Linked DNA regions of Homo sapiens. The protein of the gene in region 2 purifies or fractionates together with the protein of the main gene of each other region. This does not show direct contact. Each region holds a gene or a part of one and is shown on either strand. Other genes may lie near its edges. The genes, in order: HADHB, SDC4, TMEM192 and CAMKV.

Evidence for each region.
Region 1: the proteins of SDC4 (region 2) and HADHB purify together in Homo sapiens (co-immunoprecipitation; 2 studies listed by BioGRID and IntAct, with this or other methods). This does not show direct contact.
Region 3: the proteins of SDC4 (region 2) and TMEM192 purify together in Homo sapiens (co-immunoprecipitation; 2 studies listed by BioGRID and IntAct, with this or other methods). This does not show direct contact.
Region 4: the proteins of SDC4 (region 2) and CAMKV purify together in Homo sapiens (co-immunoprecipitation; 2 studies listed by BioGRID and IntAct, with this or other methods). This does not show direct contact.

The regions. Positions count from the first base shown.
Region 1 is NC_000002.12:26,282,939-26,289,960, reverse strand, and holds part of HADHB (trifunctional enzyme subunit beta, mitochondrial isoform 1 precursor), read right to left. Parts: intron 6,958-7,022; coding exon 6,910-6,957; intron 5,845-6,909; coding exon 5,757-5,844; intron 5,079-5,756; coding exon 5,004-5,078; intron 4,555-5,003; coding exon 4,390-4,554; intron 44-4,389; coding exon 8-43; 3' UTR 1-7. UniProt on the Homo sapiens protein: Mitochondrial trifunctional enzyme catalyzes the last three of the four reactions of the mitochondrial beta-oxidation pathway.
Region 2 is NC_000020.11:45,338,409-45,345,430, forward strand, and holds part of SDC4 (syndecan-4 precursor), read right to left. Parts: intron 1-7,022. UniProt on the Homo sapiens protein: Cell surface proteoglycan which regulates exosome biogenesis in concert with SDCBP and PDCD6IP.
Region 3 is NC_000004.12:165,109,851-165,117,514, forward strand, and holds the start of TMEM192 (transmembrane protein 192), read right to left. Parts: upstream 3,011-7,664; 5' UTR 2,924-3,010; coding exon 2,897-2,923; intron 1-2,896.
Region 4 is NC_000003.12:49,866,885-49,874,415, forward strand, and holds the start of CAMKV (caM kinase-like vesicle-associated protein), read right to left. Parts: upstream 3,023-7,531; 5' UTR 2,874-3,022; intron 1-2,873. UniProt on the Homo sapiens protein: Does not appear to have detectable kinase activity.

The DNA.
Region 1 (7,022 bases), on a different chromosome or scaffold from region 2:
GGATCTATTATTTTGGATAAGCTTCCACTATCATAGCATGGCCCTGTAAAGAAAACAAAGTCCAATTAGAGCAATGAATGGTGATGAATCCACCTAGTACAGGGACAGCAGAGAACAAGGAGAAAAGTACAGGCTTTGGAGTGGGATCCTGGCTCTGCCAATCAATCACTGTGATCTTGGGAAAGTTTGTAGTCAGTCTAAACTGGAATTTCCTCTACAAAATGGGGCTCATAGTGTCTACTTCATAGAGTTTTTGTGGGCATCACATAACATACAGTATATTTGTATATGTGTGTATATATATACACACACATATATATTTATATACATTCATATATACATGTATACATATATGCATCAGGCTCTGTCTAGTACAGAATCTAATTCCTAGTGATGCTCTACAAATGGATGCTGTTAAAATGAGAAATCCAGGGGCTTTTTTAACTGTATAAACATAAACATGATACAGCAAATACCAATAAAAGTAAGTTTCTAGAGGGGAAAACTGAGGCTCTGAAAGGTTAAGTGACTCACCCAAATCACAAAGCTATTAAGGTAACAGGGCCAGGATTTGAAACCAGGTCTAGATGATTCCAAAGGCTGGGCTTGTCCCTTCTTCACTATTCTACACAGGTTAAGATAATGATCTGAGGGACCACAAAGGGAAGAAGTAGAATATCTTTCTTTTTTTATTTTTTTTATTTATTATTTTGGAGACCGTGCCTCGCCGTTGCCCAGGCTGGAGTACAGTGACGCGATCTCAGCTCACTGCAAGCTCCGCCTCCCGGGTTCACGCCATTCTCCTGCCTCAGCCTCCCGAGTAGCTGGGACTACAGGCGCCCGCCACCACGTCCGGCTAATTTTTTGTATTTTTAGTAGAGATGGGGTTTCACCGTGTTAGCCAGGATGGTCTCGATATCCTGACCTCGTGATCTGCCTGCCTCGGCCTCCCAAAGTGCTGGATTACAGGCATGAGCCACTGTGCCCGGCCAGAAGTAGAATATCTTTTATCCAGCACTATGCACAGTGCTATGTACTAGCTATGTCCTTAGTTTAGATGAGTCTAAATCCTAGCATAGAATTTTTAGACACCCTCTAAAAAACAAAAAAGTAAATAAAAGAAACTATTATTTACAAAGTGCCAAGTTGAACACTGCAGGTTTAAAGATTTGCCACATGGTCTTTGTCCTCAATCAAGTATACACTGGAGTTCAAAACAAACTGTTAAGTACTTGGTTTTTCTGTTTTTTTTGAAACAGGGCCTCCCTCTGTCACCCAGGCTGGAGTGCAGTGGCCTGAACACGGCTCACTGCAGCCTCAACCTCCCGGGCTCAGGTGATACTTCCACCTCAGCCTCCCGAGTAGCTGGGACTACAGGCACCCACCACCACGCCCAGCTAGTTTTTGTATTTTTAGTAGAGATGGGGTTTTGCCATGTTGTCCAGGATGGTCTCGAACTCCTGAGCTCAAGCAATCTGCCCACCTCAGCCTCCCAAAGTGCTAGGATTACAGGCATGAGCTACCACACCTGGCATGTTAAGTACATTGAAAAGGCACAAGCAGACAAAAAAAGAGCAGGGATAGGAAGGTTTGACTGACTTGGGGGTTGTCCTGAAAGAATTCATAATAAGGTAGACTACTCCTCTCTGGCTTGCTTATTTTATTTTTTATTTATTTTAATTTCTTTATTTGCTTTTTGAGACAAGGCAACTCTGTCACCTAGGCTAAAGTGCAGTGGCGTGAATACAGCGCACTACAGCCTCAACATCCCGGGCTCAAGCAATCCTCTCACCTCCCTCCTGAGTAACTGGGACCACAGGTGCGTACCATCATACCTGGCTAATTTTTGTATTTTTGGTAGAGACGAGGTTTTGCCATGTTGCCCAGGCTAGTCTCGAATTCCTGCGTTCAAGCCACCCAGCTGCCTTAGCCTCCCAAAATGCTGCGATCACAGGCATAAGCTACCGCACCCAGCCCTCTCTGGCTTTATTTTAAACACACTGTTTTCATGTTCCATGTTTTTTCTTGCTCTAGATCAGATTTGGCAACACCTGGAGATACTTTTGGTTATACCAACCGTGTGTACCTGGGGCAGAGGTGGGGAGGAGCTTGTTGCTACTGCTATCCGATGGGTAGAGGCCATGCTAAACACCCTACAACACACAGCCCCCCAAAACAAAGAATTGTTTGGCCCAAAATGTTAGTGCCAAAGTTGAGAAACCCTGCTCTAGATTCACCACGATGGATTTCTCCTCTGTCTCCAACCATGTTGGTATTGCTCACGTGGCTCTTGATCAAACAATGTCAAGTTTAATCTAGTTTCTCAGATGCATCTTATCTTCTCTCTTCATACTATAAACTTCTAGAAGAAAGGTGCTAGGTATTATTCCTTGTTCATCCATAAAAGCATCCAGTATTGTGTTATTTATACTCTACATGCTAGATAAAGAATTAGGGAACACATACTCAAATCTGCAGACATTACCCTATGTGGATTACGCACTATGCTCGTGAGTAATGTGTACAGGTTATCTCCCTGGTAGAAGCCTGGCATGAAGAGATAGAGGGATCGCTCTAGTCTTAATGGACCATGGTTTTCTGTAGATGAAGTTACACAGATTAAAAAGCATTTGTGATCATAAAGTCCAAAATGTTCCAACTGATAAATAACTGACCCCTTGGTTTCTGCAAAGTCTCTGAGGAAAATCCATGAAAAAGGGCTTTTAAACGTAAGATTTATTTCATTTACTTTATTTTTGAGACAGAGTCTCTCTCTGTCACCAGGCTGGAGTGCAATGGCGCCATCTCGGCTCACTGCAACCTCCACCTCCCGGGTTCAAGCGATTCCCCTGCCTCAGCCTCCTGAGTAGCTGGAATTACAGGCGCACACCACCACACTAGGCTAGTTTTTATAATTTTAGTAGAGACAAGGTTTCACCATGTTGGCCAGGCTGGTCTCGAACTCCTGACCTCAAGTGACCTACCCGCCTCAACCTCCCAAAGTGTTGGGATTACAGGCGTGAGCCACTGCACCCGGCCAGTTTATGCTTTTAAATATTTATTCATTTTGATCAGGAACAGGAAGTTTCTGTAATCTAGAGGAAGAGAAAATCTGTTCACATCGGGATTAAAAAAAAAAAAAAAAAACAAAAACAGGCCAGGCACAGTGGCTCATGCCTGTAATCCCAGCACTTTGGGAGGCTGAGGTAGGCGGATCACCTGAGGTCAGGAGTTCGAGACCGGCCTGGCCAATACGGTGAAACCCCGTCTCTACTAAAAATACAAAAAAAATTGCCCGGGCTTGGTGGTGAGCACCTGTAATCCCAGCTACTCAGGAGGCTGAGACAGGAGAATCGCTTGAACTCGCGAGGCAGAGGTTGCAGTGAGCCGAGGTGGCACCACTGCACTCCAGCCTGGGGGACAGAGTGAGACTCTGTCTCAAAAAACAAACAAACAAAAAACAAACTACAATCTTCCTTTTGGATTTTATTCCTAGAGTGAGATGCTACAGCAGTCAGGAAGTTGGGTCTCTAATGCAAGTGAAGTAGAAAGGAAAAAATCTGTCAACAATATATTTCCCCAGCTGAACAGCAGTAAGTTATCCAGAAGTAAATTAACTCCCCAGTTAAGGTATAATTCAGTTCTCTAGAAAGATAGTTTCTCTCTTGGAGAGATTTTATAAAGTCTTATGGTGACTAGATAAATAAAAGTTAATTATTAAAGAAGAAAATATATCAAGATGTTAATAATGTTAATGTCTGATGGGGAGATTATAGATGATTCTAACTTTTTCTATATACTTTTCATATATTCCACAATTTTCATAATCAGCATATATTTATAAGTAAAAAATAAACATTATATTGGGGAAAAATAGCTTGGGTTTAAATAGCTGTTTCCTTCCAAAGAATTATCAGAATTATGGCAGGGCATGGTGGCTCATGCCTGTAATCACAGCACTTTGGGAGGCCAAGGAGGGTGGATCACTTGAAGTCGGCAATTCGAGACTAGCCTGGCCAACATGGCGAAACTCTGTCTCTACTAAAAATACAAAAATTAACTGGACATGGTGGTGCACACCTGTAATCTCAACTGCTCGGGAGGCTGAGGCACGAGAATCACCTGAATCCGGGAAGTGGAGGTTGCAGTGAGCTAAGATATTACCACTGCATTCCAACCTGGGTGACAGAGCAAGACTGTCTCAAAAAAAAAAAAAAAAAACCCAAAAAACAAAAAGTTTTATCAGAATTACAGCTGTTATCCCTCCCCACTCCCCACCCCCAGGTCATCAAAAATATTGCTTTAAGAAGGTTTCAAACTAAATCATACATTCTAGTCATTCCAAGAAAATGACTCTCTGGAGGGTCCTATGACACCACTGTAACGTACCTGCCCTCCAGCTGCACACGCAGCCACTAAGCCATACTGGCCTCCTTCTTTCCGTAATCTGTTGGCAGCAGCCATGACCAACCTGCAGCCAGTGGCTCCAAATGGGTGTCCCAGGGACAGAGATCCACCCCAGTTATTAAACTTCTCCAAAGGAGGCAATCCAACCTGGCTCCCCCAAAGACACAAATGTAAAGATAAGTTTACTTAAGATCAGAATCAAGCTAGGCTCTTAGTACTACGAAGTAAGAGAGATAGAGGAAAATACGTAACGTCAGACATATTACAAATAATTTTACTGCAAAAGAAAGTAAGTCTAGGTCAATATTAAAAGTCAGGAGTCCATTTATTTTTCATCTAATGTCAGAATGCAAGGAACAAAAAACACAGAATTTTATTTTTGCTAAATAATTTCTATTTTTAAACTAAGAAATAAATATATTTAATGAAATACAAGAATTTCTACTTTTACACTAAGAAATAAATATCTTTAATGAAAGACAAAATTCTTCAAAAGAAAGAGAAGCTTTCCCTTCATATTCTTAAGAACAGGTAACTAAGATCCAATTATTAACGTGCTTTGAAAATTCACGCATTTTTTAAAATTAGAAACTCACCTTGGTTTTTCTACCCATGTAGTTTTCTGCAAACCAATCAGAATCCATGGCTTTAAAATTTGCCAAAATCTGACCCTGGAAGAGAAAATAATCGAATAAGAACCTCGTTATTCATGTTCCTCTACGCTTTCTTATAGGAATGGTTTGTGAAAGTTTAACAACTTTAGGTATGGTTTAAAGTTGAACAAATCGGCCAGGCACAGTGGCTCACATCTGTAATCCCAGCACTTTGGGAGGCCAAGGCGGGTGGATCATCTGAGGTCAGGAGTTCAAGACCAGCCTGACCAATATGGTGAAACCCTGTCTCTATTAAAAATATAAAAAAAATTAGTCGGGCATGGTGGCAGGCGCCTGCTTGTCCCAGCTACTCGGGAGGCTGAGACAAGAAAATTGCTTGAACCTGGAAGGCGGAGGTTGCAGTGAGCCGAGATCGTGCCACTACACTCCAGCTGGGGCAACAGAGCAAGACTCTGTCTCCAAAAAAAAAAAAAAAAGTAAAGTTGAACAAATCTTTGTATCAGTTTTCAATGGCAATTTCCTAAAGAAGCAATTTGGTATGTTCTCCAACACTGTATGTGTGGCCCTTGCTTCCCTCCCCTCGGGCCCCTCCCAGCAGTGTGAATCAGTACTTAAAATATGCAGGTCCACTCCTGCTCTACTCACATCATAAACCATGCCTTGCTCTCTCCCACAAATATGGATGACATTTTTTATGACTATAGTCCCTTCATATGTGTCTTTCAAATTACTTACCGAGAAAGCTTCATGAAATTCAAAAGCATCAATATCATTCATGGTCAATCCTGCCTTTTCTAGAACTTTTGGAGTAGCATATGTTGGTCTGCAAAGAAAAAATAAGTAATATCTTAAAACTTTAATTTTTAAACTAAGAGCTCCTTCATATTCCCCAAACTGAGTTTTACATAGGTACTCTAATGTCTTTTCACTCATTCTTTGATTTTTCTGTACTGATTAATGAAATGTTAAAGATAAAATAGTGAAACTGTACAGACATGCCCTCTACTCTTATGTTGCAGAGTCAGAGAAATTGATAATAAATAAACAGTGAGGGATAAGGACAAGCTAATAACATGAAGAACTGGAAGAACAGAGTTCAAAGAGCAAGGCAAGGGAAAGGGCTTGACTGATGTGAACGTCACAGTGGAGGCTAGAGGCTACAGCCTTGTGAGGGAACGGAACAGAGTCTAAACATGGGGAGGCTTTTATAAAAGGCTATATTAGGAAGATTGTGTAGCAGGGTGTGTAGCCATATGAAAAAATGCATATGCTATCTTAATGAAAAAGAATATAAGTTGTGTGTGTCCATATATATATGTAAAACTTATAGGAAAAAAATGGAAAATAATCCAAAACTGTAACATGATATACCAATGGAAAGGATTACTACTATTTTATTTATTTATTTATTTTTTTGAGATGGAGTCTCGCTCTGTCGCCCAGGCTGGAGTGCAGTGGCGTGATCTTGGCTCACTGCAAGCTCTGCCTCTCGGGTTCATGCCATTCTCTTGCCAAAACCTCCCGAGTAGCTGGGACTACAGGCGCCCGCCACCACGCCTGGCTAATTTTTTGTATTTTTAGTAGAGATAGGGCTTCACCGTGTTAGCCAGGATGGTCTCAATCTCCTGACCTCGTGGTCTGCCCACCTCGGCCTCCCAAAGTGCTGGGATTACAGGCGTGAGCCACCGTGCCCGGCCAGATTACTATTATTTTTTTTAAAAAAACCACCACATAAACCAATTATGAACTCAGGGCTTAATATACTCTCAAACCAGTGTAATAAACAAATAAATAATAAACCAGTGTTAATCATTTATTAACCAGTATAATAAAACATAGGCAATCAAATACTTGTGATTATAGTCCAAGGATACAAACTGCTACCTACCCAAGTAATAGTTGATCTTTTGGATCCTGAGACACATACATAAAATCCCTAGGTAAAAAAATAGAGAGGTGAGCTTTGGTAATAAAATAAAGAAATCAGAGATGATTTGTTTG
Region 2 (7,022 bases):
GGCCAGCTGTTGACCAGGTCAAAGTCCTCAACAGGGGCTGTAGTTCCATCAGGAGACTTGTCTCAGGCTGAGAGACCTTTTCCCACCCCTCACTGCCCCCAGGAGCCATGGAAGGTTGTTTATGCATCCAGCCTCTCTTTCAGTATGTGAAAGTGCTAAGAGGTATTTCAAAACAACCCATGGGATTAGCATGCCCACTGGCTGTTAGGAATTACCTCCGTTTTACATTAGAGAAATGAAGGCTATGAGCGAAAGTGGGGCGTGAAGATCTTGCAGCCAAGTCAGCAGCAAAACCAAGGCTGAAACCAAGATTTATTCCCAGTTCAGCCCTCTTTGTGGGCACCTGTTCATCCTTAACCCTTCATTTTTATACTCAGTTTCCAAAAAAGAAACTAGTCTAGTCTGAAGTCACCCCGGGGCTCCGCGGCACGGCCTGGATTCGATCCTATTTCAAAGCTCTGAAAAGATGGAGTCTTCAAAGGCTGCATTTAGATGAGCCCAGGATTTCCCTCCTACAGCAAGTCAAGGGGCTGGGAAGAAACTTCTTCCAGCTCCCAGTGGTGATAGGAGGACACAGGGAATTAAATCTCTCCTTGAGCTCTGGAAGCCCCCTCTCTGCCCTGTTTTGGTCCCTTCTCCACCCATGACCTCTGACAAGAGGGAAGGCAACTCCAAAGTGGATAAGAGCCATTTAGGACTAGGCCAGCAAGACGGGACCAAGCCCCGTGGGATTGTGGGCAATCACTCTTTTTTGTGTAAAGGTTGGGAAGGCACCAACGGTCCTCCTCTCCTCCGCCCTCTTTTCAGATAAAGCCCATTGAGTCTGGGGTGACTTTGAAGAACCAGGCCACCCAGCAGCCAGGCCCAGCCCTGACCAGAGATGGACCCCGCCCTGCTCCTGGCTAAGAATGTGGTCTGTTCTCCTCAGCTCACCCCACCTTTGCCCAGGCATGTGTGTTCGTGTGTATACATGCACAGGCACCCTCTCTGGGCTCTCAAGTCTCCTTGTATCTTTGTCCCTTTCATGAACACACAACAGAAATTACCAACTAAGTAAGACAGTGGTGGCTAGGCACAGTGGCTTAATCCCAACATTTTGGGAGGCCAAGGTGGGAGGCTCACTTGAGCCCAAGAGTTTGAGATCAGCCTGGGCAACATGGTGAAACCCCATCTCTACAAAAATTAGCCAAATGTGGTTGTGCACGCCTGTGGTCCCAGCTACTCGGGAGGCTGAAGTGGGAGGATCACTTGAGCCCAGGAGGTCGAGGTTGCAGTGAGCTACGATCGTGCCACTGCACTCCAGCCTGGGTGACAGAGGAAGACCCTGTCTCCAAAAAATAAAAAATAGGGCAATGGGCCTAGGTCCCACAGACTCTGCTGGCCCTGTGGCTGGTGGGGATCTGGGATTAGTGCCTGGGGGTTTAGAGATACTACATTCTTCCCCAGACTGTTGGGGAGAAAGAAGGGAGGGGAAGTGCTCTTTTGTTCTACAGAAACTAACACCTGCCAACAGAAGGTATCTGATTTTATAACCTAGCAAACAGACAAGACAAGGGATTTTGCCAAGGTCATCCAAGCAGCTGGCAGCGGAGATGGACTTAGAACCTAGGTATCCTGGCTCCCAGACTGGAATTATCTTCTCTCCCCTTCCAGGGTGTTGGCTGCCCCTAAGGGTCTCAGCAAATCCACAGGCAGCAGCTGTCATTACAGTTATACTCCCCATCTAGTCTTTTGGCTATAGGCATGAAGCTACGAAAAGGTCCTATCCCAACCCTATCCCCAAATCCTATGGCTTCTATCACCCCAGGAAAAGCATGAGTGACTAAAAGGAGTATCCACTACATGCCAAGCACCATGCTGGGTACTTTGTTTATACAAGTTCATTTAAATGGCAAAACAGCCTTGCAAGGTGCTCTACCCATTTTGCAGATGAGAAGACTGAGGTTCAGCTGAGTCACTTATCCAACGTCATGCAACTAGAAAGCTAGAGCTGGGATTCAAATCCAGATCTTCCTCAAGAACACGTCCCAACCACAACTAGGCTTCTCACTGCCACCCACTCTTCACTTCTCTCCAGCCTAACCCGCCAGTCCACAACACACTGGCTGGGCCAGGGCTCCAGGGCAACCCTGTCCCTGCCTAGGAGTAAACAAAGGTGAAAGTGATATCACTTAAACAAAGGAACAGAAACTTGGCTGGGGCACCAGAGAGGAGTTCAGGGTCAGGGCTTGGATAACTGTGAACTAATGAGAGCCTCTCCCGACCTGGCTCCTCCCCAGGGGAGGTAGGGTCGGGGACACACTTGACCCTTCTTTCAGGAGGCAAGACCAGAAGGGTAATAACTGGGCAAGCCAAATTTAGTGGGGAGAGGGGATGGTGAGTACCTGGGGCTCCAACACCTGGACCCACCAGAATGATTTCTAGCAGGAGACCCCCAGCAGCGTACACTACTCGTAACTGTTCTTCCCCACCCCACCCACTTCTTAAGGGCCAGACATTCCCCAGAATGGCTAAAACCTGGGGCCCACAACTGTGACTCTACCACCCAGAGTGGTTGTGCATCAAGGCAGATTCACAAGTGTGAGTTCTGCCACTTCCTAACTATATGAGCTTGGGAGTTTATTTCATCTCTGAAATCCTCAGTTTCCTCTTTTGTGACTAGGGCTGGTAGCACCTTGCAGGGTGATGAGGATTAAGAGGAATGCATTTGTGTGTGCAAGGGACCCAGCACGTGATCAATGAATAGTGGCTGTGATTAACCCCTACCTGCCTTCCTCCTGGCCAGTGGGATCAGTGCTCAAAGGATCAGAGGCCTGGGAAAACTTGCAGAGGCAGTTCTGTTGCTGGAAGGAAGCTAGCCTGGGGACAGGGAGATGGTGCTTTGCAAACTGTAAAGGAATATAATCTATAATAGGTTATCATTTTGCTTCTGAGCCCAGAGACTTTTCAACAACCAATCAGGTCCCTTCAGACTGTGAAAAAAAGATACAGAGATAGTCAGAGACCTGCCCAAGGTCACACAGCTTTGACCACCTGTCCTAAGCAGACAGAGGTAAAGACCATTTTTATTTTCCCCGAAGGTGCAAATGACAGTGACCAGAAACACCTGAAATTCTACTTGGGGACCTGGGTCCCCAGGGACAAAATAAATAAATAAAAATCTAGAAGGTAAAAAGAAACTACACACCAATCCATGGTCTGGTGCTCTGGTGCCTGAATGGTTAAACCAGGTCTGGGGGTGGGGGTGGAGTGAGGGTTCAAATGTCGCCTTCAAGGTCGGGTTACTCTGAACACAATCACTCAGGAGAGAGCCAGGCCTGGCACTGCCTGCAACCAGCTTTTCACCAAGCCTCAGGGCAGCCCATTCCCACAGCAAGAACTCCAGGATCCTAGGGTGCCAGCTAGAAATGGGGGAAGGGTTCAGGAGCCTCTGGATGTCTCCCTGCCAGGAGCTGACCCAGCACCCTTGTTACTAACTCCCTGGATGATCGTGGACAATTCCCTTCTCTGAGCCTCAGTTTTCCAATCTGTAAAAGACAGGTCTCAAAGAGACAAGCCTCCCTCTGTCCCAGCCCAGTAACCAAGCTGGGCATTGCTCCGATTACCGGTGGAGACAGCCAGGAGGGGGCTGGCTCCCTCAGGGCCTCAGAGACAGAGGTGCATTGAAGTTGGAGCTTGTAATCTAGGCAGCAGATCCGAAATCCCTGCTGGATCCGAGGGCTAGGGAGGCTCTCGGGATGTAAACAAACCTCCTGTGTTCTCAGAGCAGAGTAGAGAGCCCACGCTGCAGCCTTATCTCAGCTGATTAGATCAGCCCTGGGTGCTGGCTTCCTGCCTCTTCCCAGCCTCCCTCACCGACCCCCAAGGAAGCCATCCTCCAGACCAGGTCAGTCTGTCCCACAGACGGCTCCGGCAGGGCTTCTCCAAGGCAAGGAGTATCCCCACTCTGGGTAGCCGGGCCAGCCATGTGCCACATCTGCCCCCACGCCCAGAGGCTAGAGTGACACCGCCAGTCCCCGCAGGCCTGGCCACTGACTGCTGGGCTTCACCAAGTCACTGTTTCCACACATACCAGCCTCTCCCTGCCTCCCCTTTCCATTACCCCAGGTGTCACCTGACCAGCAGCCTCTTCTACTGTGCCAGAGAAAACTGGAGCAGCCGAGCTCCCGGGCCTGGAGGACAGGGGGAGGGGTGAGATGCAGCCTGAAGGGGTGGGGGCCGCTGAATAGGAAGGTCTGGGCTGAAGGTGGGGGTTGGGGGAAGCAGGAGGCAAGAACAAGGCTGGGAAGTGGGGGAGGGAGGAAGGATGGCTGTAGAAAGGTCAAAGCCAGAAAGAACTGCTGAGATCAGAGTGACCTTTTGGGGAGTACTGCAGCCCCCTGAAAAGGATAAAAAGGTCTAAACCCCAATAACTGTAACTCTTAGTTTACATTTTCAACATATGCACAGACACCACCTCCCCAAAGCCAAACTCTGGCCGGGTTAAGAACCCTCGTCTAGGTGCTAATAAAGCCAGAACTTTACAAGTTTGCCAAACAGCGATGATGACCTTTGAGTGCCACAGGTGTTTTATAGAGGACACTGGAGTTCACATCAACAAAGTGACGTATTAACTGTGTGTGTCCCTGGGTGAGCAGCAGAGCTAGGACGGGGGCTGGAGTTTTCTGTACCCTCTTTTTCAGTCACCCAGCCTTCAGCAGATGGGACCAGAGAGGCCCCAGTGAGATGCAAGAATGTGCCCAAGGTCACCACTGTGTTAGTTAATGACAAACAAGCCCAAGAAGTCAGGCTTATTCTTCTAAGGTTAAATGAGACCCCAACTGTTGACATATGTGTTCTCTCTCCTCCCTCTCTAGGGCACCATGCAGTGAAAACATACGAGAAACTGGCTTTTCAGAACACTGTACCTTTTCTGTCCACCAACACCCCACCCCTCAAAGTGCTATTTGCAATCACTCAGCCTCCTTAAGGGTAGAAACTCTGCCCCTCCAGCACAGGAGGGTGACCCCAGGTCCTGGACAGTGTCCAGAGTGGTCTGATACCCTTGGCAAACCCCCTGCCCCCTCTCCCTCCAGGCTGCAAACTGTTCAGCATGAGGCTCCAGCAAATCCCAGCAGGAGAGGTGGGGCTGCCCAGAACTGGTTCTTGTTTAAACATAAACCCATTCGATAATTAGCAAACAGCCCACTTCTAAGATAAACAAATAGGAGATTTGGACTCCAAAAGCCCCACCCTAGATTTCTCCCTTCCCACCTCCCAGCTGTGGGGGTAGATAAGGGGGATAAGGGGGATGGAGAAAGCTTTCCAGGAGACCTGGGCTCAGAATCTTCAGAGATAGGACCCCCTGGCATGAAGGTGGCCTGGGCAAGGAAGGGAACTGTCACTAAGTAACACCTCCTCCCTACCAGGCATGGTACTAGGTGCCTTTATTTACAGCCCTGTCGTCTCCTTTAAGCTTCGCCACACCGGTATCATGATCTTCTTAACAGACCAGGAGGCTGGGGCTCAGAGGTGGAGTAGCATGACTGAATTCATGTAGCCAGTAAGAGGTGGACTTCGCACGTCTGGAGTTAAGTCTGTGTAACACCAAGCCAATGTTTCAATGCCCTCTGGCCAGCCCCAGGAAGCAAAGAGGAGTCCTCACAAACATCAGAAAATCCTGGGGTCACACCAAACCTGAACAGTACCAGCTTTTGCTCTCTGAAAAAATGCAGGCCAGTTGCAGCCTCAGTTTTGCCTTAAAGAGGAAAAAAGTACTACCTGCTCTGCAGAGGTCTAAAGCCCAATTTTGAGGACTGGCTGCACAATGTACAATGTCAAAGTCTACATGCAGGCAAGGGGCTGTGAAAGTGCGGGACCTAGTACAAACATGTCCTGTATGTCCCCTCGAGCCCCGGACACTGAAACAGTGACTCCCAAAGGACAAGGTAAAACTCTGAGCTCATTCCAACACCCCCACCACAGAGCTGTCCTATTAGCCAAGAGTTTGAAAGGAAATGGGTGACTCAGGCAGGCTACGCTAGCATGCAGTGACTCACAGCGCTCGGTCCAGCCCCTTACCCCAATTTTAAGCATTCATTTGGAAATCACACTCGCCTGTCCAGTCCGGGAGGTTGAAGGACAGCTAGGAGCCAACTTCTCCCAACAGGGAGATGGGGCTGGGAGCCCAGCCTGGCTTCCCCAGCTCCTCATTCAGGCAGGCTCAGCACTCCAAGTCCTTGGAAAAGCCCTCTGTTTCTAGGAGCTGGGGATGGCAGGAGCTGAATGTCCCCCCGCCACCCCAACTTCTCTTCTGAGACTGGGATTTGTTTAGACTCTTCACCAAGGAGGCCAGCAAAGGGCCCCTCCCCTCATCAATGGGCTCTCTGGGCAGGAAGGACCCTTGGAAGGCAATGGTCCAGCCTCCTTATTTTAGAGTTGGGGACACTGAGACCCAGAGACAGGGCATGTTTGCTCAAGGTCACCCAGCAACGCAGAAGTAGGACCTAAGGTATCTACCTTCAAACCCAGCAAATTTCCTCATCTGGAATATTCTGAGGACACTCAAACCAGACACCTTGCCCTATCAGAAGGACCTGGTTCTGACCTTAGGAAGCCACTGCATTGTTCCGAGCATCAATTTCCTGTAAAAATAGAGAAAATGGTACCTCGCAGTACTGGGAGATACTCATACTAGCAATAAATAACAGTAATGAACCATTTAGAATAAAGTTACATGCACGAATTTATTCATTCATACAAGCATTTCCTGAGTACAAACTAGGGGACAGGTATTTCACAAAAACAAATAGAGCAGAGTTCCTGCCCTCAGTGTGCGGGGGGAGAGAGGGAGGGATTCAGCATTTGGTGGAGTATGTTAATTCCCTCAAGTTAATTCCTTCAAGAGAGAGACCTCTTTTGAATAGTAGGTACTTAAGTTATTAATCAAATTGAGAGATGGAAAGGACTCTGGAGGCTACCCTGTTCAAACCTTTCATTTTAAGGTGGGGGATGTCAGCCCAGCGGGGAAAGAGGCCTCCCCC
Region 3 (7,664 bases), on a different chromosome or scaffold from region 2:
GTTTATGTTCTCTATAAAACTGGCCTTGTTAAGTGTTTTCCTTCTGCTTTAAAATCCTATAAAACTTATTGCCCATAATATTCATTTGGAATATTTCTTATGCTGCCTTGTATTGTTTTCCTTTTCATGGGTGTATCTTTTGTTTTTCCTAACTACACTGAAGGAGTTGGGGACTATAATATGGTTCTTCTCTATGTCACTCAGGAGTATTTACTTTCCATTGAATCCTATAGGAAATATGCAGTGTAACCATACAAACAGCACCCAGTCATTCTATTAACTCACCATCTGCAAGTGAAGGGTGAGGGGAAGAGGACTCCTGAATCCAAATGATTTTTTCATTTCCATTATTAACTACATTACCACCTGTAGAAGATGTCTGTTGTTTTTGCCCACATGGTATCTCTTCTCTCTTCTGTGACAATAACTCTATTTCCTTTGAGGACCCACTGTCTACTTCTGCATTAAGTCTTAGTGGAACCATCCTTCAATACCCTTCCTCCTCCTCTGCTCTAGGAGTGGTCATGGAACAAAAAACAGTTGGGTGAATCCAACTCTTTCCATGAGCAGTAAAAGAAAGATCATGAGGCCGGGCACGGTGGCTCACGCCTGTAATCCCAACACTTTGGGAGGCCAAGGCAGATGGATCACCTGAGACCAGCCTGACCAAAATGGAGAAATCCCGTCTCTACTAAAAATACAAAATTAGCCAGGTGTGGTGGTGCATGCCTGTAATCCCAGCTATTTGGGAGGCTGAGGCAGAAGAATCACTTGAACCCGGGAGGCGGAGGTTGCAGTGAGCCGAGATCGTACCATTGCACTCCAACCTGGGCAACAAGGGTGAAACTCCATCACAAAAAAAGAAGAAAGATCATGATTTAGGCAGATTCATTCCAGGGTAGACCCTGAAAGGACTCCTGTCACTTCAATGCCTTGAGATGCCCTTGTTTGGGTCCTTTCAGAGGCCTTGGCATATACTCACCCTATAGCCTTTCGAATACATCCTTTTCTTAAATTAGCCACAGTTGGTTTCACTGCCTGCAAACAATGAATCCCTACTAACACAAAGTCTTTGACTCAACTCATTTAAGTGTCTGTAACTAAGGCATGGTCCAAAATTTTTAGCTTTTTCTTGAAGGCTAGGAATCATGTTTACAAAATACCAAAAGCAGGCAACTTACTCAGATCTAAAGTGACTCCAATATGTGGTTGGTAGCAAAACATTAATCTCTAATTAATTTTTATTTATTTTTATTTTTGAGACAGAGTCTCGCTCTGTCGCTCTGTTGCCCCGGCTGGAGTGCAGTGATGCGATCTTGGCTCACTGCAACCTCTGCCTTCCGGGTTCAAGCGATTCTCCTGCCTCCCCAGTATCTGGGATTACAGGCCCCCACCACCCCACCTGGCTAATTTTTGTATTTTTAGTGGAGACGGGGTTTTGCCATGTTGGCCAGGCTGGTCTCAAACTCCTGACCTCAGGTTATCTGCCTGCCTCGGCCTCCCAAAGTGCTGGGATTACAGGCATGAGCCTCCCAGACCATCCCCAGGCTCCAGTGTTTGAGGAAGCAGATTTCTAGTACTATATGCATCCTAAAGCTAAAAGCTACAGATCCAAGAACGCCAGAGCAGCTTAGCATCAACCAAGAAGCACTTACTGCATGTGTTTTTCTAAGACACTCTCATTTTCCTCTTACATATTCGGTTTTTTCTGTACATTGTCAGCTCATGAAGCTCAGCCTTAAAAACTCAGAAACAATGAATTTTGCTTTAAATATATATGAGTCTCAAATCTACTTACAGGTCTTACAGTTAATTTTCCATTTTCTCAACTGGAAAAAATAGAAAATTTTAGTTTCATTAGAAATTGTTTGGTCTTTATTTCATCAAGATTATTTAACTGGTTACTGCACAAGAATCTAAGCTACCGTAATGCTGGAACTGTTTCATGTTTCTCTTCCTTTTCCTGATGCAGTTCATTCAGTGATAGGATCACAGTAATATTCCTACTAATTTATTAACCCAAATTAGTGCTTTACAGTAACTGTCAACTTTGCATTTCTCAAGAGCAAAAATTTTATTACTTGCCAGTGGAAAATCCAGTTAACTCTCAGCATACATACATGTTTCTCCTAAAAACACCTTACGATACTGAAGCAAAGAAATAAGATTTTTGTAATTATGCTACCATTCTGTACTATACACGCTGTAAACTAGGCCACTGGTTTTTTGTTTTTTTGTTTTTGTTTTTGTTTTGGTAATCTGGTTTGAATCTATCAAAGATTTAAAAACCTTTGTATTCCTACCATGCTAGATTCAAAACAACACATGACACTTTTTCTCTCGTGTGGGTTTCCAGGCCATGATAGCGACAGGTCTGCGGGACGCTGGCGCCCGGCCCGAGCGTCGTTGTCACTCCAAGTCCACAGCCTCTAGAGCCAAGGCAAGGGACCTCACCAGGAAGGGAGATTCGCCCCCTGTGCCCCTGGGACGTCCGAGCGGAACCCATCGGCCCGGCTCCCGGAGACTCGCGGGGAGGAAGGGCTGTCAGGCCAGGCGCGCATCACGTGAAGCTGCCAGTTCCGGGATCAAAGACGTACCCCGCACGTGGGCTGGGCGCCAGCCTGGGACCCCCGGGGGCCGCGCGCCCACCGCCCAGGAGCCCACCCCAGCCTCCACTGGGAAAATTAGCCCGGAGCCAACGTGTCGCGGATCCCACAGCCGCCTGGAGCCCTCCCAAAGCCCCGCGCCCAGGCCTCCCCGGGCACAGGCGGCGCCCCCTTCGGCCGCGGCCGCAGTCGCCAAGGGTGGCTTCCCTCTCTGAGTCTCCGCCCCGTGCGCCCCGGCACAAGAAAAAGCGGATTCCGGGGCCAACCGCCCGCCGCCTCCGTGCACTCACGTCCTCCATCCTGCCCCCCGCCGCCATTTCCCGACGCCGGAGGCCGAAGCCCTGGCCAGCCCGGCCTCTCCACCTGGACCTGTAAGCCTCTGGCCGCGAAACTCGCCACCTTCTGGGACCTGCCAGGCCCCTCCCCAGACACACCCCCTCCTGCGTCCGCCCCGCCTCCGGCTGGCCCGATCCCCGCCCCCTTAGCTCCGATTGGCTGAGATGGTGGGAGGGGTGTGCCGGCCCAGAAGACCTGGACTGTGGGCGGTGGCTACCGCCTGAACCACCTCGGTTCCTGGGGCTTCTGGCCGCAGCCCCTCGGTGCGCTCTTACCCAGAGACTTGAGCATTTAAGGATGCCTTCCTAGTCCAAGAATTTAACTATTTTCGGGCTCCACTTGCATATTTTAAGAACATTAACTTTTTTCGGTCTTGCCTGGTTGTTTGCAGACACAGCTCTACGCCTAGGTAGAACCAGCGGTAAAATCCTACTCCGCCAGCAGAGGGACAGGAGCAGAATAAAGATTCCAATTTCCATGACATATTTACAGATTTCTCCAATGGGAAACAAAGCAGTTCGGAATGCTTACGGCGTTCGTTTATTAAGACAGAGTCTCGCTCTGTCGCCCACGCTGGAGTGCCCTAGCACGACCTCGGCTCACTGCAGCCTCGAATTCTTGGCCTCCTGGCCAGTTCTCCCACCTCAGCCTCTCAAAGTACTGAGATTACAGGCGTGAGCCACTGGGCCCTTGTTTCTTTTAAAATTGAATTTCAAAAAGAGAAAAAACTTCAATGACATTTTCTAAAAAGCTCATGATTGTAAAAATGTAAGCAAACAAGGAAAGAAATTTTCTGTTACCAGCTCCCGGAGAGAACTTTGATATCAGTTAGAATATATACACTCATACATTTTTTTGGTGGGGCGGCGGAGACGGAGTCTCGCTCTGTCGCCCAGGCTGGAATGCAGTGGTGCAATCTCGGCTCCCAGGTTCAAGCCATTCTCCTGCCTCAGCCCCCTGAGTAGCTAGGATTACAGGCGCGTGCCACCAAGCCTGGCTATTTTTGTATTTTAGTAGAGACAGGGTTTAGCCATGTTGGTCAGGCTGGTCTGGAACTCCTGAGGTCAGGTGACTCGCCCGCCTCGGCCTCCCAAAGTGCTGGGATTACAAGTTTAGCCACCGCGTCTTGCCCACTTTCATACATTCTAATGCTTATTTGTACATTGAGTATAGTGTGATCCAGTTTAGGATGTGTGAGATAAAACTACGCAAATGTTAGTGAAGGAAGAGATGGTGTAAGACTCCACGTGATCTTCTTTTTTCTTTTTCTTTTTTTTCTCGTAGAGACAAGGTCTCACTATGTTGCCCAGGCTGGTCTCATAATCCTGAGATTCTATGAATTATTTATCACAAGCCTTTTCTAGACGTGCAAATTTTCTTCTCTGCATTTTATTTTGAAAATTTTCAAGCCTACAGAAATGTTGAAAGATTAATACAATGAACATCCATGTACCCCTCACACTTGATTCATTAGTTGTTCATTTTTTGTCTTGGTTGCTCTGTGTGTGGGTGTGTGTGTTCACATACTTTTTTTTTTTTTTTTTTTTTTGAGATGGAGTCCCGCTCTGTCGCCAGGCTGGATGGAGTGCAGTGGCGCGATCTCGGCTCACTGCAAGCTCCGCGTCCCGGGTTCACGCCATTCTCCTGCCTCAGGCTCCCCAGGGTCTGGGACTACAGGCGCCCGCCACCACACCCAGCTAATTTTTGTATTTTTAGTAGAGACGGGGTTTCACTGTGTTAGCCAGGATGGTCTCGATCTCCTGACCTTGTGATCCGCCTGCCTTGGCCTCCCAAAGTGCTGGGATTACAGGTGTGAGCCACCGTGCCTGGCCATTTTTTAACTGAACTACTTGAAAGTAAATTGAAGACAATATGAAGCTTCATTCCTAGATACTTTGTTGCCTAAAATAAGGATATTTTATATTTTCTTTCATAACCACAATATCAATATTACACACAACTAATAGTAATTCCATGTTTACTAATAACCAATCTATGGCAAAAATTTTCTAAGTTGTTTCCAAAATGTCTTTTTTAGCTGCTTTTTTTGTTTTATTTTGTTTTGTTTTGTTTTTGAGATGGAGTCTTGCTATGTTGCCCAGGCTGGATTCACACTCCTGAGTTCAAGCAATCCTCCCACCTCAGCCTCCCAAGTAGCTTGGATAACAGGCATACACCACTGTGCCTGGCCCAGCTGCTGTTTTTTCTTTTTCAGTAACCAGAATCCAATCAAGGTTCACACATTTCATTTCATTATTATGTCAAGACATGCTTTTCTGTTGTTGTTTTCGACACAGGATCTCACTCTGTTAACCAGGCTGGAGCACAGGGGCGCTATCATAGCTCACTGCAGCCTCAACCTCCTGGGCTCAAACAATCCTCCCTCTTCAGCCTCCCAAGCATCTGGGACTATATGTTCACACATCCATACCAGGCTTATTTTTAAGATTTTTCTTTTTGTGAAGATGGGACTTTGTTATGTTGCCCACGCTGGTCTCAAAACTCCTGGTCTCAAGCCACCCTCCCGCCTCAGTCTCCCAAAGTACAGGGATTACAGGTGTGAGCCACTGCACCTAGCCAAGACATGTACTTTCACAGGGACAGCACACTGGTTAAGACCAGGGCTCCAGAATTAGTCATGGAGGTTTGAGTTCTGCATCTTACCAAGCATGTGATATTGGGCACTTAGCTTAAGTTCTTAGGAGCTGACTGGGCAAGGTGGCTCATGCCTATGGCCCCTAGCATGTTGAGACACCAAGGCAGGAGGATTGTTTGGTGCCTGGAGTACGGGACTAGCCTGGGCAACATGGTGAGTCTCTGTCTCTACAAAAGATTAGAACATTAGCTAGGTGTGGTGACGTGCACCTGTAGTAGCAGCTACTTTGGAGGCTGAGGTGGGGAAGTTTTAGTTTCCCTTTTACAGAAATTTTCTTTCCTTTTGTTTTGTTTTGTTTTGTTTTGAGATAGAGTTTCACTCTTGTCGCTCAGGCTGGTGTGCAATGGCGTGATCTTGGCTCAGTGCAACCTCTGCCTCCCAGATTCAAGTCATTCTCCTGCCTCAGCCTCCCAAGTAGCTGAGATTACAGGCGTCAGCCACCATGCCTGGCTAATTTTTGCATTTTTAGTAGAGACAGCGTTTCACCATGTTGGCCAGGCTGGTCTTGAACTCCTGACCTCAAGTGATCTGCCCACCTCAGCCTCCCAAAGTGCTGGGATTACAGGCGTGAGCCACTGTGCCCAGCCAGAGATTTTCTATTAAATAAAATAATGCATGTAATGCTCTTTATACAATGTTGTCTCTACAAAGCACTAAGCAAATGTTAGTCATTTTTTGTCTAAATCAGATTTATTAAGGCATTATTAACATACATAATCATTTTTGTTTGTTTTTTGTTTGTAAAGACAGAGTCTCACTATAGGCTGGTCTTGAACTCCTGGTCTCAAGTGATTCTTCTGCCTCGGCTTCCCAAAGTGCTGGGATTACAGGCAAGAGCCACCATGCCAGACCCATTGTTTTAATAATATATTAAAAATATGTTCTCAGCCCATATAATGCTCTAATGACTGTTAAAGCAATTTATATAAGCATAGCCCTGTAAATAAGTTATATTTAAAAAGTATCTGACACTTCATTTTTGTATGACTAAAGATCTTTTGGTGAAGATTCTTGCGTTTATTTACTTATGAGGAGTAAGGAGAGGAGGAGAGAAGCTGTTTTCCTAGTGTTGGGGCTCAGAAGATAATATCGGCTAGGCGCAGTGGCTCACACCTGTAATCCCAGCACTTTGGGGGGCCAAGGCGGGCGAATCACCTGACATTAAGACTTCAAGACCAGCCTGGCCAACAGACGAAACCCCATTTCTACTAAAAATACAAAAATTAGCCAGGCATGGTGGCATGCGCCTGTAATCCCAGCTACTCAGGAGGCTGAGGCAGGAGAATGGTTTGAACCCAGAAGCGGAGATTGCACCACTGCACTCCAGCCTGGGCAACAGAGCAAGACACTTTTCAGATTTAAAAGTTTAAAAATGCAACTAGCCTGGCCAAAATGGTGAAACCCCGTCTCTATCAAAAATACAAAAATTAACCAGGTGTGGTGGTGCGTGCCTGTAGTTTCAGCCACTCAGGAGGCTGAGGCACAAGAATTTCTTGAACCTGGGAGGCAGAGGTTGCAGTGAGCCGAGATCATGCCAGTGCACTCCAGCCTGTGTGACAGAGCAAGACCCTGTCTCAACAACAACAACAAAAAAAAAGAAGAGGATAATATCACAAGTATAGTGCTTTTGCATGCTGAGTACTTGAAGTGAAGGACACATTGGCAGGCCTCAAAAGCCAAGTTTCTCTATGACTTTTGAACAAACAGGCCTTGCTGACCCTGGTACTAAGCATTAAAGTAGATGCTTGTAAATTCTTATCCCTACTCAGTCTATTGTCATTAGATCACCTGTAATCCCAGCTACTCAGGAGGCTGAGGCAGGAGAATTGCTTGAACCCGGGAGGCAGAGGTTGCAGTGAGCCGAGATCGCGCCACTGCACTCCAGCCTGGGTGACAGAGCGAGACTCCCTCTTAAATAAATAAATAAATAAATCTGTTATGCTTTTCTCTTGTTAATCTGGCTTTTGTTATAGGAGTGTCAGCCATGACCTTTCCACCTCTATGCTACCAAACAGTTCACCATTAGAAGATGCTGGACTGAAGCCCCATCTTTCCTGTGTTGTCAC
Region 4 (7,531 bases), on a different chromosome or scaffold from region 2:
GTTCAGGCCCTACCTTTCATAGACATAAACAGAGTTTCCTGCTACCTTGGTCCCCTGCCACGTGGGGCTCCAGAGCTTGCAGTAAATCTAGGGAGGCCAGGAGGGGCCCAAGAGGCCTCCAGCTGCCTCCCAACAACTGTAGGCAACACCTCCTAATTTAGTGGCAGCTGTGAACACCAGCCTGCAGGCACCCCCTCCTCTCTGCTGCTCTACTCTCTCAAGGGCTGGGGCTGGGTTTCCTGCTGCAATGAACATGCTGAAGCCCAAGCCCTGCTTAACTCACAGCTGAGGTGTCACCCACAGGACCAGGGGAGCTGAAGACCTCCCTCAAGGTCTGTTAAGAACAAGGGCCAAGCTTCTAGACCACCATCCAATTGCTTCAGGGGACCGGTCAAGGGGCTGCCCTGACTGAGCCTCCGGCTCGAGCTAAATCATGGTAGAAGTTCCTACAGCTGAATTTTGCCCATCTAATGAGGGAGTATTGTGGGGAGGTCTCTCCAGTTTTGGGGGTGGGCATGCAGTCCAGTGCTACATCCCGAAAGTTTAGCTGTCAACATGCAGGCAAAGCCAAAGGCCAGCTGTCTCCTCCCAAGCACTTGGGGTCCAAATCTCTGAACCCCTGAAGGAGAATCCACTGGAGGCTCTGCTTCCCTGTGGGTGGAGGAGGGGAAATGCAGAGGAAGGCACTAGAGTAAAGGGTTGCTATGGTGATGGAAGTTTTAAAACAAGGGGAGGGGGAGGGGAGATGTGTTGGTCAGGTCCCTTCTTCAAGAATTTCCTGAGACCTTAGCCTGGCTGCTTCTTCAAGGTTCTGTGACCCAGGTCCCCATCAAGAAAGGGGAGGTGGGGAGATGGAGAGAATTTAGAAAAAAGAGAATGGGGCAGAGACACAGACAAAGACAGAACCTGTGATGGAAGAGGAGCAAGGAGATGACAAAGTAAAAGGGACACAGGCACAAAGGGCAGGAAAGGGGAGGTGGACGGGAGTTCTGAAGGGGGCGGATGGGTGCCCAGCAGAGCCCTAAGGCCTCCATGGCGATGTGCTCTAAATCCCTGGGCCAGGAGCTATCCATGGTACTGGGACCTTCGAGACTGCACCCTCCTGTATCCCCCAAACATACACTGAACTTGGTGTAGGAGGCACAGCCAAAAGGAGGCCAGCTCCTTGGAGCATGTTGGTGGGGAAGAGGCCAGCTGCTGCAGCCCCCCAGTCAGGACAGTTCCCAGCCCGTCTCTCTGCCATCACGGCAGCTTAGGTAAAGCAGGTCCAACATGTTGAAGGCAGACGCATAGGGGTATGGAAATGAGGCTCGGATGCCTGGCTGCTTCCCTTTATAGTCCCTCTTCTCAGTTGGCCCAGCTGTACTTAGACCCTCCCAGCCAACCCCTCCCCCATCTGCTATCCTTTCCAGGCTTTGGGTCCCCAGAGCCCCTCTTACAGCTCTGCTTAATCCCCTCTCACCAACCCCCAACAGCAGATCCTGCCATGAGTGCCAGAAACGGCACCACAAGCAACCCAGAAACAGGATAACCACACAGCCCTTCACCTCCCCATGCCTCAGTTTCCCCTAATGGAAACCATGGAATCTGGCCTTCTCCCAGGGCAGAGGACTGCTTGCCTGCCTGTGAATGGTGGCCAGGGCATGGGGCTGGAGAGTAGGGCCATCAGAGATATGTGAACAGCCAGCCTAGGAGAGCACCTGAAGGGTCCACACCAAATATTAGAAAAGGGAGACCCTTGCCCCACCCTGGAAACCAACCTGACTCTGAGTGGAGACACCAGTTCCCCAGTTGAGGAAACTGAGGCTCAGAAGTCGCTGGAGCTGCCAGGAATCAACTCTGAGGGTGGGGGAGGGCACCAGGTCTCTAAAGGTAGTCCTGGGGGCTCAAAGCCTGGACTTGGGGGTAAGGGGAGTACAGCACAGGGACTGGACTACTGCAGACTCTGAGCTTTTAGTGTGGGACAGAGGGCCCTGATCCTTAGGAAGGAACCTGGTGGAGCAGGATCTGCCTGGGAGGTGCGGACAAAAGCAATTTGGCAGAGCTATGCGGGGAGGGGGCTGGGGCTCAAGAGCCCAGGGTCTCTGCCAAACAGTACAAGCTGGGGAAGGCAGAAGCTCATGCTGTCACTATCCCAGCCACCTCCAGCCAGGGGCCCTGCTCCCCACCGTGCTGCCACCCTGACCCCTTTCCCAAGTGCTGCTGGCTCGCCCCCGCTGGCACAGCAACACACATGCGGAAAGCACACGTGTGAGCACCAAGCCCCGCACCTCCCAGCAGGAACATGTGCGCCCCCACCCCCACCGTGCACGTGGGTCCATGCACTGGACCCCCAGCTGGCACCCAGGTGAAGGCTTGGAAGCTGAATTTTGGCTGGGGGGCTGCTGGTCCCCAGGGGCTTGGAGCTTCCTCCCCCACCCCGCGGCAGCCCCGCCCAGCCCCCTCCGGGTTGTCGCCCATAAAGAACTCTCCGTTGTCATGGAAATTAGTGACTGCTAAGCGGGAGGGAAGGGGCCCGGGGACAGTTGGGAGGGGCTGGAGGCGGCTCTGGGAACGGGGAGGGACGGCTCAGCTCTCGGCCCCTATCCTCACGGGGGACCACGAATCTTCGAGGGTTAATCTTTTCACAATTCCGAGCCGCAGAAGCTTCCCCCCAGAACCCCCAAGCCGTCCGAGGTAATGGGGAACTTTAGCCCGACCCCGCACTCCCTCCCCCAAATCTGCAAAGCCCGCGCGCTCTGACCCCGCCAGGACCTCGAGCCCTCGCTGCGCCCCCGCGCACTCTGCATCCCGCACCTCGAGCCAGGGAAACAATCCCCCAAGGCCCCACAACCTGCGTTCGGGAAGCGCCCCCAGCCCGGCCCGCCCCGCACCTGCAGCGCCGGTTGGTCACAGGGAGGAAGTGATCGCGGGCTCAGCGGGGCGCCGAGGGCTCCGGGGACGGCGGGCAGAATCCGCTCCGAGCACGCGGGGCAGACGCGGCGCCAGATGCAGCCGCTTCGGCTAGCGAACCTCCAGCATCGCCAGCCGCTTGCCGGCACCGGATTCGCACCCCGGGCCGGGGGCGGGCTGGGGGCGGGGCCTCCCAACCGGCCCCGCCCCGACCCTGGCGGAGCCTTAAGGGCAGAATCCCACTGGAGAGCAGGAGCGCGCGGGATGGCAGCGGTGCTGGTGAGCACTGGCCTGCTTAGCCCTGGCCAAGGTTCTCAATGGCTCCCTTAGGCCCTCAGCCTGGGGCCGGAGGAGGCCTCCTATGCCCAATGTAAGGGGTGGTGAGTGGAGAGTTGGGGGAAAGCCTGAGTCCTGGAGCTGCATAGGATCGCTTGCCAGTCATTAGTCTCTAGGGAACGGGGCTTTGCCCAGCTCCCCGAACCCGACCCAAAAGGCAGGACCAACTTAGAAAAACCAGATGGGCAGTCGGGCTAGGGCAGGCTCCCCTAGCTAGGAGCAGTAAACACACAGAGGTGTGTGTTTGCAGGTAGTCAGTGTGGCATCCCCTAGCATCCCCTAGCTACGCATCCCCTAGCTAGGAGCAGTAAACACACAGAGGTGTGTGTTTGCAGGTAGTCAGTGTGAAAACAGTGAGGGCCCTAGACTGTAGTAGCAAAGTCTCCTATCCCACCCCATCCCCAACTCCTGCAAGGCCAGAGTCTTTCCCAAACATAAGTACCAGCAAGGGTGGCAGCACAGTCAGCCCCTTCCTGTGTGGCACCAAATTTCCCAAACTATAAAAGTCACCTGTGACATGGTGTGGCCTCTGCTTTCTTTTCAGTCTAATCACTGTCAAACACTTCATGAGTTGTATCACTCTAGTGGCCTGGCCTGGGATATGGGGACACAGGAGAACTGTGGCACCAAGGTATCCCACCTGGCCTGGGTGCTAATCAGAGGGAGGAGGCTCAGAACCACCAGGAGGAAGCTTTAAAGGAAGTCCTTGGCCATTTCTCTGTCCCTTGTCAGTGAGGCTCACGGACCCAAAGCCTGACCCACACCCCTCACAAGCCCTGAGGACCATCCTAAGGCCAGTATCTGAAGACCAGACTCAGGCCTCTCAGTGTCTGGAGCTGGGTTTTATCCCACCTCACTCCTCCCAGTGAGCCTCCTGACCCTGCTGTGGGAGAGGGAGTTGGGGTCATCCCCAAACCCTCAGCCATCTTGAGGCTGCCCTGGCCACCCATGGCTGATGACAGGAGGGACTGTCCAAGTCCAGAAGCTGGGGCTGGGGCTCAGACTGAAGGCTAGCTTAGGAAATGACCGCCTCAAACAAGGTTCCTCAAAATTTTCCTCCAGAGGGGGTACTGAGCCCTTCACCTTCCTCCCTGGCTTGGTGTTACCTCCTCTAGGCCAGGCTGGTGCCACTTCTGGGGTCCCTGGGCTCTGAGTGGTCTCGGGTTATGGGACCCACCCCACCACTGGGTAGGAATCTCCTGGCAGGCTGGGTATCTGCAAGGCAGAACCCGTTTCTCATCTCAGTATGCTCGGCTGATGTCTGCAGAATGAATGAATGGCCTGGCACTGAGTCCTTCCTGCCATCTGCCCACTATTCTTGAAACAATGGGTCTCTGAGTTTTATGGTGTAGCCAAGCTGTAGCTTGCTGACCCCACACATGCCACATACATGTTTTCTGTCTTTCCTGAGGGTCATGGCTATCCAGGCATGGGGGTCAATGAGAAGCTGGAATGGGGATTTTTAGGCAGGGGAAGGGGTGGCTCCTTAGCGCCCTGCCTGCTGCTGGCAGTACTCCACCTCTTCTTGGTCCTAAGCACGCTCTGTGCATGTGGGTGAGAGCACGTGGCAGGGTGTGTGTGCACACGTGTACGTGTTGTGTATGCTCTCTTTTGCCGAGGGAGATGCAACAGCACAGTGTATGCAGTGGTGCCCAGGGGCACGTGTGTCTGCATTCTTTGTGCACCCAGGCATGCTTGCTGGCACGTGTGTGTGGACGCTGTAGCTGGTCCCTGGAGTTATCAGTCCCCTTCCTGCCTGACACAAGTCTCAGGATTGTGGAGGCTGAATCAGGCTTTGAGAGCTGGACATGGGAAGGGGGCTGGACCATGTCCAGCAGTGGGCAGGGTCTGTGCTGACCCTACATCATTGGCTGTTTTCAGGCTCCCCACCAGAGCAGCCCCTTGATCTCTGGTGTATGTGAAGATAGACAAGTCTTTGCCATTTGTGGAGGGCAATCTGAAGACAAGAACCCAGGGCTAGGATTGAGCCATGGCTTATCCCTCAGCCCCTAGACAGGAAGGCACAGGCAGGGTAGGACCGGCTTCAATGTTTTGGCTTCAACCTCCAGCTGCCTTTCAGGCAGGAGATAGTAACATCAGCTGAATGCCATCCTCTTAGCTCTTCCAGGGCAGGGACGGGACCAATGCTGAGCTTTGTTCTTACTTCCACTATTCAAAGCCAGACGGGGTCAGGGGACATGATTTCTCACCACTCCACTGGCCAGAGTGATGGCAGGAGGCCCTTTAGCACAGACCAGAGTTTGGAACAAGAGCAGAGGCAATCCAGATTAGCATTGCCTAGTAGCCTTTATGAGGACCCTCCTAAGGAGGCCTGTACCCTGAAGACAGGGGCTGCCTGGGTTGGGAGGCTGAGGAGGAGAAGAGGGCCCAAGTTCGTAGTTCTGGCTCCCACCAAAGCTAGAAAGTCAGAGGGGCAGAATAAGGTGCGAGCCGCAGTATCCACAGAGCTTCATCCCCCAGCTCAGGTTGGGCCTCCTACCCAGGATCCAGGACTTATCTGTGCCCCCAACTCCCAGCTCTAGGGTGCCAAAGGCCGGCACTCCTATGCCCTTAGATTCTGGCTGGCTGATAGAAGCCCCTGCTAACCCAGCATAGCGCTCCAGCAAAGGTTCAGACTCTAGGAGGTACCTAGATTACCAGTGCAGCTCCCCAAGAAGCCTGAACTCTGACAGAACCCTCCCACCCCAGGCCCCCAGCCATCTTTGAAACTGCCTGACTGTTGTCCATGTTGCTTGGCTTCAGTCCCCAGAAGAGGGCCCACAATGGGGAAGGGCAAGCAGTCTTTTCCTCTGGAGCCAGGGGAGGGGGCTGCCCCCCGCCCCCCACCTTGTGACTCACTCCAGGCTGTGTGGGTTATTACATTATGTTTGAAATTGCCATGGCAACAAGCTGGCAATCAAGGGTAATTGCACTTGTCGTCAGGGCAACGGGGCAAAACCCACAGCAGCCACTGTCTGTGGTTGCCCTTGGGGTGCAGTAAAGGTCAGGCCAGATCAGAGCCAATGCCAGTCAAGGGGCTCCGGGGCTGTCTAGAAAGGGTAGGTTGCCAGGGCCCATGGAGTTCCAGAGTGCAGAGGCAGGGCATGCCTTTGGAGAGAGCCAGGGCCCCCATCCATGACCCCATGCCTGGACTCCTGCTTTTCCCACACCACCCTGTGGCTGAAACATGCCACGGTGCTTAAAGAAAGCAGAACCAGAACTTTTATATGCTCACAGCTGGTACTTATAGATAGCCCATGGGCCCTCTTCCTCATATTCCTGGCAGCTGAGCCACAGGCTCTGGAAAGAGCTCCGGGATGCCATGATGGAGCCCCCAAGCCAGGCAGCAACTGCACGGTGGGGAGACCCCAGCACAGTGGCACCAGGGCCCAGCTCCTGTCTCAGGCGCTCAGGGAAGCCACTCATGAGGGTGCTGCCACCGTCCAGTACCACATTGGCCAGTAGCTGCTCCTGCTGCTTGGCCTCCAACCGGCTGATGCTTAGGAGGGCCAGCTGTGGAAGGCCCAGCTGGTTGAGACCTATCAGATTGGGTTGGAAGAGGGCCTCAGGGCAGCAGAAGCGCTCAGGCCCCAGCGTGATAACCTGCTTGTCTGGAAGCACAAAGTCCACCTCGGCCTGCGCCTGGGTGTGGGCCCTCTCAGCTGCCACATCCATGGCCACGTAGCAGCAGGCCTCTTTCATCTGGTTGATCAGTCCTGCCTGGGGCAGTGAGTGGCCACTTCTCTGCAGCAGCTGGGCCAAGTAGTCAGTAAGGTCAGCACCAGCCACATCCAGCCGGTAGGTGTCAAGTGGGGCCAGATCCCCAGTGAGGATGGGTGCCACATAGGAAGTGCCATGGCCACTGCCCAGCACCAGCCCAGTGGTACGTCCATAAGCATAGAGCGCCAGCAGGGCCTGATGCACTGTCTGCATGGCTGGGACATGGAAATGCTCAAAGAGTATTTCAGCCACCTTTTCTCGGTTGGTGAGTGGTGAGATGGGCGAGTCGGCTACGAGCACAGACAGCTTCTCGGGCTGCACACCCAGCCTTCAATAGAACAGGTGCTGCCATAGCACCTCTAGTGCATCCCAGTCATAGACCACACCACGGTTCAGCACTGAATAGGATCCCACTTGGTTTTCAGGCACTGCATATCGTGGCTGGCCCTGGGCTGGGTGCTGCAGCAGCTGAACTCGTGAGGGTATGACACTGAGGACATGGTCCTCTCCCGCCAGTCCACATTTGGTGAATCCTGTGCCTGTATCAATCACCACGGCCGCCATGTCCTGGAAGGGTCCCAGT